Homo sapiens: one gene and its partner. The protein of the gene in region 2 interacts with the protein of the main gene of each other region in a pairwise test. Each region holds a gene or a part of one and is shown on either strand. Other genes may lie near its edges.

Region 1 (7,570 bases), on a different chromosome or scaffold from region 2:
GGCTTGGAGCCACATTTGGAGAATTGAACTCATCTTTTAAAAAAAAAAATCTGAATTTCTACAGTGAAACTATTTTATTTTACTTGATTGTGGGGCTGCATGTATGAAGTATGAACATCGCTGCCCCAGTGTACTGGTACTGTAGTTGTATAAATCTTGAATGACCTGTGAAAATCTTACTTTTGCTTAGTATTAATATAAGTGATACATAACTAAAGTTGTAACACTTTATTTTTATATTAGCTACCACTTATAGAGCATCTACTAAATGCCAGCCTCTATACTTAGAACTTGACACGTGCTAGTTTCTCATTCACTTCTCAGCACAGCTTTAGGAGGCATATTATTTTATAGATAGGGAAAATAAGGCTGAGAGAAGGTAAGTGATTTAACAAGGACACACAGACCTGAAATGGCAATGTGGGAATCTGAAATCAGATCCTTTTGATATCAAAGGCTATGCTCTATCTGCTCTGCTATATTTAATATTCTGGTTCCGTACATACGTCAAATAACAGTTGATTAATGCAATCAGCTTTAGAATCTCTGATGGGCTTTACTTACCACCAAGTGAAGAAAAGCACCTTATAAAGAGCAACTCTAGAAATGGAATCTCATATCTGAAGATCATTATAACCTAGAAAATTGTACCTGGTTACAAACTTGGTGCCTTAAATAGGGCCAGAGTCTAACCAAACAAAAAGTTATTAGCAAGATAAACCATAACAACCAGCATATGGCAAAAATCCGTACTATAGAGGTTTATTTTCTCCATTTGGAAGATTTCATTTTACTAGACAAAGTGTATGGGATCACAAGCATTACTGTTTGCAAAATTAACAGTATAAACAGGAAAGTGTTAACAGCTCAAATTAAATACGGGAAAGCAATCCTAACATCCTAATGTAGCTAGTTTTATTTTCCCTACATTTACTCGATTCGCTAAACATTTATTCAACTGCATGTTGAACCGTCATGTTTTTAGGCTGTAAGATCTTTCACAACGAAAGATCCCAAGTAAAAGAAGTGTTTCATTTGCCTGCATAGACTCTGACCAGTAAGTTCTCCATCAATACTTCTTATGAACAGCATCATCACTATCATAACTAGGGGTTTAATAGTATCTCTTAATTGAAAAGGCCTGTTTTTTATTTTACCAAATTAACATAACTTTCTTCTTTAACTGAAAACTTACACGAGCGAGTGATCTTTTCGTTCTGTTATGTGGAACTTTGCATAAGAAATTTTTCCAAGTATATTCTACACATTTTTTAGAATGGCGTGATACTTTCCTATAGTCCTAATTCAGTTTTTTTAATATTGCTGTTTAAATGTGAAATCTTACACAACGATAATTTGTATCTTTTCAGGCACTAAACTTTCTTCTGTTATTAAATGTAACATTTAGCTGAAACATACGTAACTCCAATATCAGTAAAGAATCAAAGATTTTCAAATAAGACTAAAGGAAAACATTCAAACATAATGTTATTGTATGCTGAAAATATTTATATGTGTCAGAAAGTAAGTTCCTTTCTCCCTTAATCAAACACTCAAGAATCGGACTATAATTTATCCACTTCACTACTATTTTGTTCAATTATTACAAATTTTAATTTTTTAAAAGTTTTCCAAACAACATTAGTAATGTTATTTCTGATTTATGAGTCACTAAGACAAATGGCTAACACATAAAGAGTATTTGCATTATTAAAATTAAGTTTTCAGAGATCAATTAATAGTGCTATAAATGAGTCATTTAAAATTAACTCCCAGTCCCTGTCTTTTCCTCCGCTTTCCAGAGGAACTATTTCTGAACTGTCCCAGTGAAAAGTATTTTTGCCTGTGTTGAGCTTTGAGAGGGATGTATTTTTAGAACACCAATATTACACTATCACCCATAGGGTAGACATAAAAAAACACTGCTTTTTGCTGATGAAACTTAGTGACCCCGTCCCTTGGAGTTGGCACATTCAACTGTCTGCTGCCTACCAAGGGTCAACCCACAGTCGTGAAGTGTACCAGTAAGTGCTCCACATTCCCACTGGGGCCTTCTATCTTCCTAAGAGTGTTCTCTGACAGGGCTGTTCCCTGCCCAGTGAAACAAAGGACCAAAGATTTTCTCAAAAATGTTTAAAAATTTGACCCATGTAACGCGGACACTCCACACTCACGGAAGTGGGCAGAAGGGGGAGGGGGAAAAAAAAGGAAAGAAAAGCTTCTTCAGCCTCAGCGCGGAGCAGCTGCTCTTCCTTACCCAGACGGGACAGTCGTGGACCACCAGCTTGACATTCCCAAACGCACTGGCCTGATACTCGGTGAACACCGGACGCGCGACCGTGCTGGCCGCGTTCAGCAACAAGCTGCTCTCGTCCCCGGAGACCAGAGGGCTTCTCCCCAGGTAAGTGCGGATAAGCCCCGACGGCCGGTTGTCCTGGTGGAATGTGTCCCCCTCGTTCCCCAGCGCCACGATGTGGATGGACCTGCACGGACAGAGGGGGCGAGGGGAGAAGGGAAGCACGGTCAGCGCGCGGGTCTCTCCTCGGAACAGGAAGTGCGGGGGACAGCGCGCGGCGAGGATGGGCACCAGCCCCTGTCCCTGGGGCGCACGGCACGCGCTGGAGAGAGACAATGGCAGGACGGCGGCGCGTACGTACATGATCTCAAATCCAAGGGCAGGGCGGCGACTCGGAGAAAAGCAGCGGCTCACGGCTTCGCGGGGCCCCCGGGCGGCGAGTTCACCCGCAATCCGCTCATCCCCGGCCGCGTCCCCCTCGCGCGCCTCCACCGCGGCGGGGCCGACGCAGAGCGGGGCCGGGGCCGCGCCAGCCAGCGAGCGAGCCGGGGACCAGGGCGGGCTAGCGGGCGGGGGATAAGCTGCCGCTACTCAGGGAGTGCCCGGGAACATCGCCGGGCGCGGGACCGCCGCACAGCCCCAAGTGGACGCAGCTGACCGCAGTCCCCTCTCCGCCGCGCCTCCTCGGCTGGCAGCTGTCGCCTCCTGCTGCCGCTGCCGCTGCTCCTCCTCCTCTAAGCAGAGAAGGGGGGTCGGGGAGATCGGGGCCTCCGCCCCCTCAGCGGACCGGGCGCAGCACGTGCCAGCCCCGGGGGTCGGGCGGATGCGGGGGACGCGCTCCCCGCGGAGGCCCCGGGAGCTCCGGTGGCGGCGGCTGGACACAAAGGAGCCGCCCGCGCGGGGCGCCGCGGAATATAAATTAATAAATACAACGCCCCAGCCCGAGAGCTCCCAGCCGCCAATCCGCCTGCAGCAAGTTTGTTCAACTCGCAAGGCCGTAACCAGAGCCAGGAAAGGGGGGTGGGGCGATGGGGCCCCCGCTCACTCCGGACTGGAAAAAGGAGGTTAGGGAAGCTAGGGATTCCAGCCCGAGTGCCGCCCCAGCAACCCGATTTCCCCCCCTCTTGGCCTTGACCGAAAGTGCTTTACCACGTCTGCCGCTTTCTCATTTGTCAACATGCGCTACAGCTGTTTTCTAAAATCATACTTGTGAGAAAAAATAAAGGCAACATTCATGCTGCTGCAGAAAGAGTTCTTTGTTCACACACCAATTAATTTGCTAATGTCGCCTTGGGGGGATTATTTACTATTTCAAGCTATATTTAGCGTATTTTACCGAAAACTTCAGGATTTTAAATGCTGGGATTTTTAGTGTGATCGTTTTTAAAGGAAGTTATGTATGGGGGTTTAACGTGTTGGTAAGTTAAATGCCAGTTTACTTGGAGATTTTTCTGTACACGTTATGGCCACATATTTAATAATAGCTCCGCAGACCAACTGAAAACATAATCACGTAAATGCAAAGATACTTTAGATTCTTTCATAATAATGCACTGAAGTAAAGGCTATGAATATCCCTAACGTGCTTCAAACTACCTCGATACAAACGAACACTGGGATCCACTTACTAACACCAAAATGGGCCAGGGATTACTCTGGGGTTAGACTCCTCCATACAGTATTAAAATTCTAACCAGTACCTTACTCTGTGTTGAAAAGAGTTCTTGCTTATCCTTTTATCTGTTTATTTTTCCCTTCTGTAAAATTGGACTGTTTCTTTTCTCAGCTGAGCTATTTTGAGGGTATGAAAGAGGGGGTATTGAGTAGGGCAGTAAAAAAACTAGGGCAACAGCTTTTTATTATGGGCCCTTATTGCTCGGTTGAAAGTAGTTTAATAGTTTCTCGTGCTCAGAGAGGATATAATGGGAGATATTCTTTATGTGGTCACTGTTTTTTTTTTTAATCTAATTTCCCTTTGCATTTTCTACGATTTCTCTTTGAGTCTCTAGAACCTAAACCATCCTTAAAAATTCCAGCATGCAAGATCACTTTTTCTCTTGGGTTAATAGAAAATATATTTTCTCATCAGTCTTTTCCGGAAACCCATAAGTCAAAAACAAAGACACTAGAATGGATGAATGGATAAAGAAAATGTGGTATACACATGTAATGGATGATTAGCGTTTAAAAAAGAAGAAAATTCCTTCATAAACTACAACATGGATGAACCTTGAGGACCTTGTGCTAAGTGGAATCAGCCAGTTGCAAATCACAAAAAGTGATTCCATTTATATGAAGTATCTAAAGTAGTCAAACTCTTAGAAACAGAAAGTAGAATCATGGTTACCAGGGGCTGGGGAGAGGGGAAAAGGGGGCGTTGTTCAACAGGTATAGTGTTTCAGGTTTGCAGGAAGAAAAAGTTACAGAGATCTGTTGCATGAGGTGCATATATAGTTCGTACTATACTGAACTATAGAACTGAACGCTAGAACATTGTTAACTAAACACTAGAGCGTGTACTGAACACTAGAACATGATTAACATGGTAACTATTGTTATATTTTATGACAATATAAAAATATTAATACAAAAATGAAACAAAAATAGACACCAAAGTTGCTGACAACTTGGAAGTGTCAGAAAGGGAGAAAGTATTCATTTTTTCCTTAGTTACTCAATAGGTGAGCCAAGCCTGTGCTGGGTAGGCATAGGAGATCCCAAGGTACATAAGACTTGGTCATTGACCTTAAGAAGCTAAAGCAATTTGTTACCAGAAAGGGGTCCCAATCCTGACTCCAAAAGAGAGTTCTTGGACCTCCAGCGAAGAATTCAGGGCAAGTCCATAAAGTGAAAGCCAGTTTATTAAGAAAGTAAAGGAATAAAATAATGGCTACTCCATAGGCAGAGCAGTGTCATGGGCTGCTCGACTGAGTATACTTATAGTTATTTCTTGATTATATGCTAAACAAGGGGTGGATTATTCATGAGTTTTTCTGGAAAGGGTGGGCATTTCCCAGAACTGAGAGTTCCTCTGCTTTTTAGACCATATAGGGTAACTTCCTGACATTGCCGTGACATTTGTAGACTCATTGTGCTGGTGGAGTGTCTTTTAGCATGCTAGTGCATTATAATTAGCATATAATGAGCAGTGAGGTTGACCAGAGGTCACTGTCACCACCATCTTGGTTTTGGTGGGTTTTGGCCGGCTTCTTTACGGCATTCTGTTTTATCAGCAAGGTCTTTGTGACCTGTATCCTGTGCTGACCTCCTATCTCATCCTGTGGCTAAGAATGCCTAACCTCCTAGGAATGCAGCCCAGTAGGTTTCAGCCTTAGTGTACCCAGCCTCTACTCAAGATGGAGTCATTCTGGTTCAGACCCCTCTGACATATTAATTAGTTTGTGAATATTAGCACACTCAATCCTTTTGAAAACATTCTAGTTCCTAGACCTAGGCCTAGGCAGTCAGTAAAAGAGATAGGTACAAAGGCAGTCAGTAAAAGAGATAGGTACAAAGTAAAAGATAAGTTCAGTGAATGTTAGGAAGAGATCTGTGCTTTCTGTGTCAGAAGTTCATAAAGAAAGTAAACATTGTCTTAGGTCTTAATAGATTAAGAATTTGTTAGATTTGGAAGAAGAGGAGGTTAGAAGGGAAGGAGTATTTCAAAGAACTGGACAGACATCACATGCAAAGGTATAAAGAAATGGAAGATCATGGCTTGTCTTAGGAACAGCAAGAGATGAAGTTAGTGCTGGCATGAAGGTTTCTATATTAAAGCAGGCAGAAAAAAGAGTGGTGGAGGCTTCCCAAGAGATTTCTGGAGTCATACCTGGTGATACTTAAGCTACAAATTGAGTATCTGGTACAAAGCCTGGCTACATACTCACCAAACCTGTTTTCTCTTCCAAGATAGCTAAATGACGTTTCTCAACTTTTGTGCATATAGGTAGGGCCACATGATTAGTTCTCATCAACGGAATATGATCCCTGCTGAGCAGTAGAGAAGTGTGTCTCTCCATTCTCTTTTATCTTCCTGTCTCAACCACATGAAGTCAGGTCAACCTTGAAGCCAGGTGTTTGAAGCTATTAGCACTGCAGTGTGGAACCAGTCCTTGAATGACTAGTTACAGCAGAGCCTCCTCACAGAATGCATTGTACTGTGATTTGAGTGATAAATAGATATTCAGTGAGTTGAGCCAGACATTTTGAGGTCAATTATTACAGCAGTTAGTGTTATTTATCTTGGCTAAAAGAATATCACAGATGGTCCATTTCCTGATATCCTAAAGATCTTTTCATAATTTTCTTATGACCACTTTTTTAAAGTTATTTCCCTTGTATTTTAAATTTTTATTTGGTTTATGTATTTGCAGTTTCTCTCATCAGCACATTTAAAAAATTTTATTTTACCAGTGTTAACAGAACAGATATCACATGTCCTCCAACCTCAAGGTCACTGGGGAACACACAGGAAGGGCTTCCAACCCAAACAATATTTTTTTCCTATTTTAGTGGCTGAAATGCCACCATTTCATATTTACTCTATTAGATGTTTTTATCCCTAAATAAGATGTAGCATAAAGTACAGTAAGGACATGTAAAGTAATTCAGTGGGCTATTACTAGTCCCCAAATTGTGAATATTCATATACCAGTTTTTGAAAAACGTGTTGGTTCCTTAACAGCTGGAGAGGAAGTAAGCATTGGTGAGGGCAGGCCTAGAGATCTCGGCTTGGCAGAAGATTTTTTCCAACTATGTTTTAAGGAAAACTAGGTTTGCATAGAAGAATCTTCAAATCAGCTTGAGGAGGTGGCAGAAAAAGAGTAAGCAGTGAGATCTGAACTCTGACAAAGGCATCTTAAAGCCAATCAGAGCAGTCTTATTGCTGTCTTTTAAAAAAATATTAAAGTTTCATATTCATTTTCATTAAAAAGATGGGTTTTCTAAGGTTAAAAACAAACGCAATTTTTAAGACTACTTATCTAGAGCCAGAGTCTTCAAGGTGGGGTACAGAAGATGATCCCTGAAATTCCAGAATAAACTTCTAATCACACACATTATTTTTTACTGAAAAAAAAAAGGGGGGAAACGAAATTAAGCTTTACTACTAGTTAATGTTGGGATTGATGCTGGTACCCCAGGTTGACCAGTAAGTGGGCAGATACAAGGAGTGTTGGGGGCATGGCAGCAATAGGATACACAGTGAGGGGCAGCGGGAGGGCTGCCTCCTTTGTTCACTTTCAATATATTGCCACATGTTGCAGTTTCTGTTTC
Region 2 (7,036 bases):
AAGCAGAAGGCCTGTTCCTTCAGACTTGTCCTTCCTCAGCAAAACTGTGAAAGAATTCTACTTCTCTTTCAAAGCTGCTCTTCTGGTCTCACATTTTAATCTTAACAACTATAGACTATAGAGAAGCTGACAGAACCTGTTTCCATAAAACAAACACAATCCTTCCCAGTTACTGGCACAACTCAGTATATTTTCAGCCTAAGATTCTTTCTAGTGCCTGATCTGAAAGGGGAAAGAACCTTGGACTTGCTATCAGAAGAGCTGCCACTTACTGGCTGGGAAACCATAGGCAGGTTACTTTATTTCTCTGAACCTCAGTTTCCTCAATTTCTAAAATACGGATTTATTTTCCTTACCTGTAAGATTCGTATAGAGGATTAAATGAAATAATACTCTTGAAAGTGGCTGATACAAAATGTGTGCTCTGAATACATGCAGTGCCTTCTCTGAGGTCTCGGCTGTGTCTGCCTCTTTTTCCGCATGAGGCCTGAATAGTACTTCTTTTTTTCCTCTTTAATGTTACTTCTCAGGCCTCAGAGTGAGTTTCCTTCCTTTCCCAACATCTCCCCCAGAATGCAGTCTTCCCCTTTTCCCTCACAACTAACCCTCGGCACATCCCCTTTAAAGAGCCCCTTACTTTACCTCCCTCCAGGCACCATCTCCTGGGCCAGAGTTCTCTCTTAAGCAGAGAGCCACTTTCCTATACTCTCTTGTATTATTAGGGCTCCATATCCCAAACAGGAATGCTTGCTAAAAACTCTGTATGGTCCTCTTTGAAAGCTGAAACTGAGACATATTTCTCCCCAGTCTGTCCGTCCCCTGTTATGGGCCATGATGCCTGCTGCTCTCTGATGAAACTATAGTTTTTATGGTGTTACATCATCTCTATAGAAACTGCGTTCTTTCTCCATTATTAGCCTGTTTCCTCATCTGTAAAGCTAAAAATACTTACCTCACAGGCTTGCTGTAAGGATTATTTTAGTGAGGTATGCAAAGGGCTCAGCACAGAGCTTGGCCTGCTAGAAGTACCCAACAAAAGAGAGCTATTATCTTTGTCTTTGTATTGAGTTGCATGTTTCCACCTTCTGCTGCCACACTCAAATTCTCCTCACTCCCCCCTAAAAAACAGTTGAGAGATAACACCCCTGCACAAGGAAAGGGTTAATCTTTGAGTGTTCTTAACTAAAGAGACCCACAGAGGATTAACAGCTCCACTTCAGTGACTACCCTAAAATAGCTTTTATCCTCCTGCCCAAGAGTTACTTGGGGATCTGAAGAACTCAATTCAACACCTGCCGGAGGAAATAGACCCAGAACGTTCCTTGGGATAGAATCTTCCCTTAAGCAGAACCCAAAATAGCAACTGGGAAATTATAAATAGACTTAGAGGAAAGAAAAAACAAAACAAAACAAAACAAAAAACAGATCCTGATCTCAGAACCAGAAACAAATCCTAAAACACACTGGTTGGCTGGAAAACAGTGAGAAGAGGGGAAATGGGAATGCTGTCGCCCCCTTCCCCCCCGCCCACTCCAGAGTGGTGGGAGAATTAAATTACAGGGAGGCTGGAGAGTCTCAATGACTTGCACCATTCCAAGAAACATCAAACAGGATTAACAGGGGTTGGATTTACTCTCAGGCTGCTAATTCTTCTGTCAGTGTAGATGGGCCCTCTTTGGAGTCTCTTTGATTCACTATTTCCTCAGATTCCTGCTGCCTCCCACTCCTGGGGAGGCCTTGAACAAATGGCTGCAACTCATCACAACCCCATTTTCATGGGGAGAAAACGTGATTCGACACCCCCGCTCCCAATCTGGTGGCCTCACCTTAGGAGAGAAAGGTTAGAAACCCAAGACCAGACTCTACACACAGTCCCATGGCTGACAGGTGGAAAAACACACAAGCCAGGAGACAGGCTAAGCTTGCAGGTGAAAGCACCGATTCCCCCACACAGGTGTCCCCATATCCTCCACCTAACAGGCCCCTTTCTCCCCACCAAGGTGGGCCACAGCCTGGTCCCAGGCCAACTTTTAGATCACCCCACTGTGGTGTGGGAAAGGTTCAATTCCCCGAGCCTGGGAGAGATGGGAGTGGATGAGGGCTGGAGAAGCAAAGGAAATCCAGGGAGAAGTCTGGAGGGAGTCTCTGGGATGGGAAGGAAGAGCGAGGATGGGAAGGAATCATGAGCAACTTTCCTGGGTCTCTAAGGGATCCCCACAAGAATGAAATGGGGGATTATAAGGGCTGGAAGGCTGGGGGGATGGGGATAGTCAGAAGTGTATCCTCTGAATTTCAAGAGGGTCTCAAAATGGGTAACGGGATGGAAGATGTCGAAAGCCTGGGAGTATGGCCACTGAGGAGGGAACTACAGGTGGGGCTTATTCGACTTCTCCAGACCCAGATATTTGAGGGAAGCCTCAAAGGGAGTTATGTAAGTCTGGAAAATGAAACAGGGTACAGAGCGGGCTATCTGGAGCAGGAAAGGGGGTTATGTGGGTCTGGGTAGGCGTGTCGGAGGGAGGGAGCAGGTGCAGCTTATCTGCGTCCCCCAGACCCGGGTCCCTGGTAAGGTCAGCAGCGCCTTATCTGGGTCTCCAGGGAGCCTAGGGGTCGGGAATGGGGGACCCTCAGGACTGCGTCTCCAGGTCTCGGAAGGGAGGGGACCGGTGGCTTCCTCGGGTCCCCCAGACACAGGTATGGGGTCCAGGGAGAGTTTTCGTCACCCCAGGGCCTATCTGGGGCCGGGTTGGCGCAGACCGGGCCCCGGGTCGGGGGTGTGGGCGACCGCGCTGAGGGGCCCGAGATGAGGCGCGCCGCCGCTCCGGGTACAGGGCGCGCGGACGCAGCGAGACGGCCTCCCGCCCCTCTCCCCGCCGTCCCCTGGGGCCCTCGCCGGCACTCACCGCGCTCGGGGCCCCACGCTGCGGGCCGGGCCGCGCTCGGGCTCCGCCAGGCCCCCTCAGGCCCCGGTAGTGGCGGCGGTCGGGCCATTGTGCGGTGCATTGTGGGAGCCGCGCGAGCGGGCGCTCGGGTCGTGGAGGGGGCGGTGCCGCGGGATCTCTATGGTCCCGCCCGCCCGCGGGCTAGAGCGGCCGGGGCGGTGCGCGGGCGGCGCGCAGGGACCGCTGGGAGCGGGGCGGGCGCTCGCGTCCCTCCTTCCCTCCCCGACTGTGCGCCGCGGCTGGCTCGGGTTCCCGGGCCGACATGGGCGCCGCCGCGTGGGCACGGCCGCTGAGCGTGTCTTTCCTGCTGCTGCTTCTGCCGCTCCCGGGGATGCCTGCGGGCTCCTGGGACCCGGCCGGTTACCTGCTCTACTGCCCCTGCATGGGTAAGGCCTCCCAAGCCCTCTGCTCAGATGGAGAAACTGAGGCCGGGAGAGGAAAAGCCACTCCTCAGATGCGCCCAGAGACACCTTCACAGGTCCAGGAGAGAACCTCAGAGCGGGACGGGGCATGCTCTTCTCCTCTCTGCCTTAGTTGCAAGGGCACAGAGGGGCCAACGTGTCCAACTTTCCATTTGACAGATGAGAAAACTGAGGCTGGGAGAGGTTACGTGACTTGCTTGAGGTCTAAGCCAGTCCAGGGTCCAGTAAATGGAGTTAGTGGGGCAGGACTTGATGTCACTGACCCACGCTGGCTCCTGGTGATTTTTCATTGATTCAGCAAATATTTATGGGGCACCTATTCTGTGCCGGGCCCTGTTCTCTGTACTGGGAATACCGCAGTGAATAAGATAAACTCCGTGTCCTTGTAGAGCCTTCATTTTAGTTGGGGAAGACAAACAATTGAGAATAAGTAGGCCAGGCGCGGTGGCTCACTTCTGTAATCCCACCACTTTGAGAGACCGAGGCAGGATCACTTGAAGCCAGGAGCTCGAGATCAGCCTAGGCAACATAGTGAAAATCCAATCTCAAAAAAAAAAAAAAAAAAAAAAAGCAGAGCGTGGTATCGTGTGCTTGTAGTCCCTTGGGAGTTATCTGGGCGGCTACTTGGGAGGCTGAGGTGGGAGGATCTCTTGAGCCGAGGAATTCGAGGCTGCAGTGAGCTCTGATCGTGCCACCGCACTGCCAGCCTGGGTGACAGAGTGAGACCCTGTCTCGAAACAAGCAAACCCAAAAAGGGGTAAACATAAAACAATAAATACATAGTTTCATAGAGGATGATGAATACTAAGGGAAAATAAAGAGAGCAGGGTAGGGGAGAATCTAAAGACCATGCCAGGTGCACAGTTGAAATGGGTATGGTGGATCATCATTGTGGAAGTGGATGATCTTAAGGCCCCCAGTGGCTTCCAGACTCCTGACCATGACTTTCAGGGCCCTGAATGATGTGGCCTCCACTGGCCATCTCCACAACTCCCTTCTCTGCTGATCCTCCAGCTGCAGCCACACTTAACTCCTTTGCGTTCCTCACACATGCTCAGGTCTTCCAGTCTGCACTGCTGCAGGTGGCGGTCCCTATGCCTGGAATCCTCTCCTCCATTTCTGCCTGACCAGCTGTTTCCCATCCTTTAGATCTCAGCCTAAATGTCACCAGAAAGGATTTCACTGACCTCTACCCAAGTAATCTCCTCATTACCCTATCACCAAACTTTTTTCATCTCTTTCTGGCAATTATCAACATTTTTCATGTATTTGTTTACATGTTTAGTGTCTCTGCAGTGAACTGTGAGTGCCTTAGGGGCAGAGGCCTTGTCCTTCTTGTTCATTCCTGTATCCCAGCACCTAGCACAGAGTCTGGCACATTGTGGCCTCTCAATCATATTTGTGAAATGAATGAACAGGTGCCATGCTGGGATTAAGAAAAGGAATCACACAGGGTCCTTGCTTCTGAGGCATTCACAGGCTGAGGAATCAGCCAGTACGAAGGCCAGGAAGTGAGCAAAGATACTTGAGGAAAATTGAAGAACTGAAGTAGCTCAGAGCCAAGGTGGGAGGTAAAGGAGGGAGAGTGAGTATGGCAGGGGATTGGTGAAAGGAGCCCAGTGAATGAGGCATTCGAGTTGCCCGTCCATGTGCAGGTGAATGGAGATAGAGGTAGAAGCTCTTCTGGCTGAGGGACAGCAAGATCAGAGGCATTGGGTGGGGATGGGAATTGTAGAGCATGTTGGGGAAACAGCAAGAAACCTGGAGTGGCGGAAGCAGTTGTTGCAGGACCTGAAGAGCCTTGGATATCAGACCCAAGAGTCCAGACTTGTTCTTATGCTGCCAGCTCCCCTAGTTCTCCTTGGTATCCCTGACTTTCTACCCCTGGCTCCACAACCTTTCTGAGCCCTGCATGCTCTATGCCCTCCATGCCCCAGGCCTCACCTCACCCGCAATGTACCATTTCCAGGGCGCTTTGGGAACCAGGCCGATCACTTCTTGGGCTCTCTGGCATTTGCAAAGCTGCTAAACCGTACCTTGGCTGTCCCTCCTTGGATTGAGTACCAGCATCACAAGCCTCCTTTCACCAACGTGAGTACTTCCCACTGACCTTGGCCTTTCTCCGCCCTTTCTCAGTCTTGCTTACTTACACTTAACCCTCAAGTCCTCTGGGCTTTACCTCCCACTCCTCTGAGATTTCCCTACCTCCAGCCAGAACTGTCTTCACTGCAATAACAATGCCTAACATTTATTTATCCAGCACCTGTTGTGTGCGGCTGCATGAGAATTAGCTCATTTCACCCTCATCACTTGCCTGTGAGGAAACCGGGGTTTACAGAGGTTAGGTAACTTGCCCAAGATCACACAGCCTGTGAGTAGGAGAGCTGGAATTCAAAGCTATCTTTGTCTGACTCCAGAGCCTGTGACTTGAACCTAAAGCCTCCATTTCCTTCCCTGATTGGTCCTACCCTCTGTGCATTCCATTGGCCAAGGGTGGCAGATGCTATTATCAATTTTAAAGGAGACATGCAGGCACAGGTTATTTAATGACATGTCCAAGGCCACAACCCAGGTAGTCTGGCTTCAGTGCTGCCTCTCACCCCATCAAGGGGCTCCCTTGTCATGCGATGCTCACCGGCCCCCAGTTCCTTGCTTATTCTTTGTGTCTTCCAGTGACCTTGTGTCGTTGTTCATATTGTATCTCCCGGAGCCTGGCAGTAGGAACTTAATTAGTATTTGATGAATTGACTTAATAATTTTCCAATAGACATCAGAAATAATACTTAGTGTGAACAAAACACTTAATTTCATTCTTACAACCTTTTCTCTGCATAGATTTTACTTTTTCCTTTGCATGCCAGTATTTACAGAGGTTTTGAGCAGCAGTCAAAAGCCAGAGTACCAGAGATCATAGTCTGACTTGGGTTCTTACTAGTTGCATGGCCTGGACAGGGTACTTTACCTCTTTGTGCCTCAGTGTCCTCATTTTAAAAATAAGCTGGTAATGATTCTTGTTACCCTCTTGTGGTAAGGACTGAATGTGTCAGTGGCAGTAACACGCCTTCAGTGTTGTCATATGCCGCCTCCCTCTTAGAATCAACTGAGCTTATCAACGTACAGATCCTAGAGTCCTCAGTTAATGGAAACCATTGATGTTCTGATAATTTCGCACTCACTATTTTTTTTTTTTTGAGATGGAGTCTTGCTCTCTTGCCAGGCTGGAGTGCAGTGGCACGATCTCAGCTCACTGCAACTTCTGCCTCCCGGGTTCAAGCGATTCTCCTGCCTCAGCCTCCTGATTAACTGGGACTACAGGCGCACCACCACGCCCAGCTAATTTTTGTATTTTTAGTAGAGACAGGGTTTCACCATGTTGGCCAGGATGGTGTCAATCTCTTGACCTCATGATGTGCCTGCCTTGGCCTCCCAAAGTGCTGGGATTATAGGCATAAGCCACTGCGCCTGGCCTCGCACTCACTATTACAGTGTAGACATTGCCCATCCATCTCCCTCTGGCTTGCTTGCCTCTGTCTCCTTGCCTTCTCAGCCAGTTGTCTTTCCAAGTCCCCACTTCCTTGCTTTCTGTGGCTTACTAACCTGCTCCAACAAGGCTCTTCTTCGCCACTGTTAGCATTCTCACTGAGGTCACCAGTGACCTCCAAATTGGCAGGG

What was found. The genes of interacting proteins can lie anywhere in the genome.
Region 1: the proteins of PLAGL2 (region 2) and RHOBTB3 interact in binary tests that used the Homo sapiens proteins (3 or more experiments, as listed by UniProt).

What each region holds. Positions count from the first base shown.
Region 1 is NC_000005.10:95,726,772-95,734,341, reverse strand, and holds the start of RHOBTB3 (rho-related BTB domain-containing protein 3), read right to left. Parts: upstream 3,007-7,570; 5' UTR 2,660-3,006; coding exon 2,658-2,659; intron 2,650-2,657; exon of another isoform or gene 2,484-2,649; coding exon 2,258-2,483; exon of another isoform or gene 2,240-2,257; intron 1-2,239. UniProt on the Homo sapiens protein: Rab9-regulated ATPase required for endosome to Golgi transport. Involved in transport vesicle docking at the Golgi complex, possibly by participating in release M6PRBP1/TIP47 from vesicles to permit their efficient docking and fusion at the Golgi.
Region 2 is NC_000020.11:32,204,738-32,211,773, forward strand, and holds the start of PLAGL2 (zinc finger protein PLAGL2), read right to left. Parts: upstream 3,007-7,036; 5' UTR 2,904-3,006; intron 1,827-2,903; exon of another isoform or gene 1,559-1,826; intron 467-1,558; exon of another isoform or gene 357-466; intron 346-356; exon of another isoform or gene 1-345. Other genes in the region: POFUT1 (GDP-fucose protein O-fucosyltransferase 1 isoform 1 precursor), read left to right, coding at 3,205-3,328, 5,334-5,455. UniProt on the Homo sapiens protein: Shows weak transcriptional activatory activity.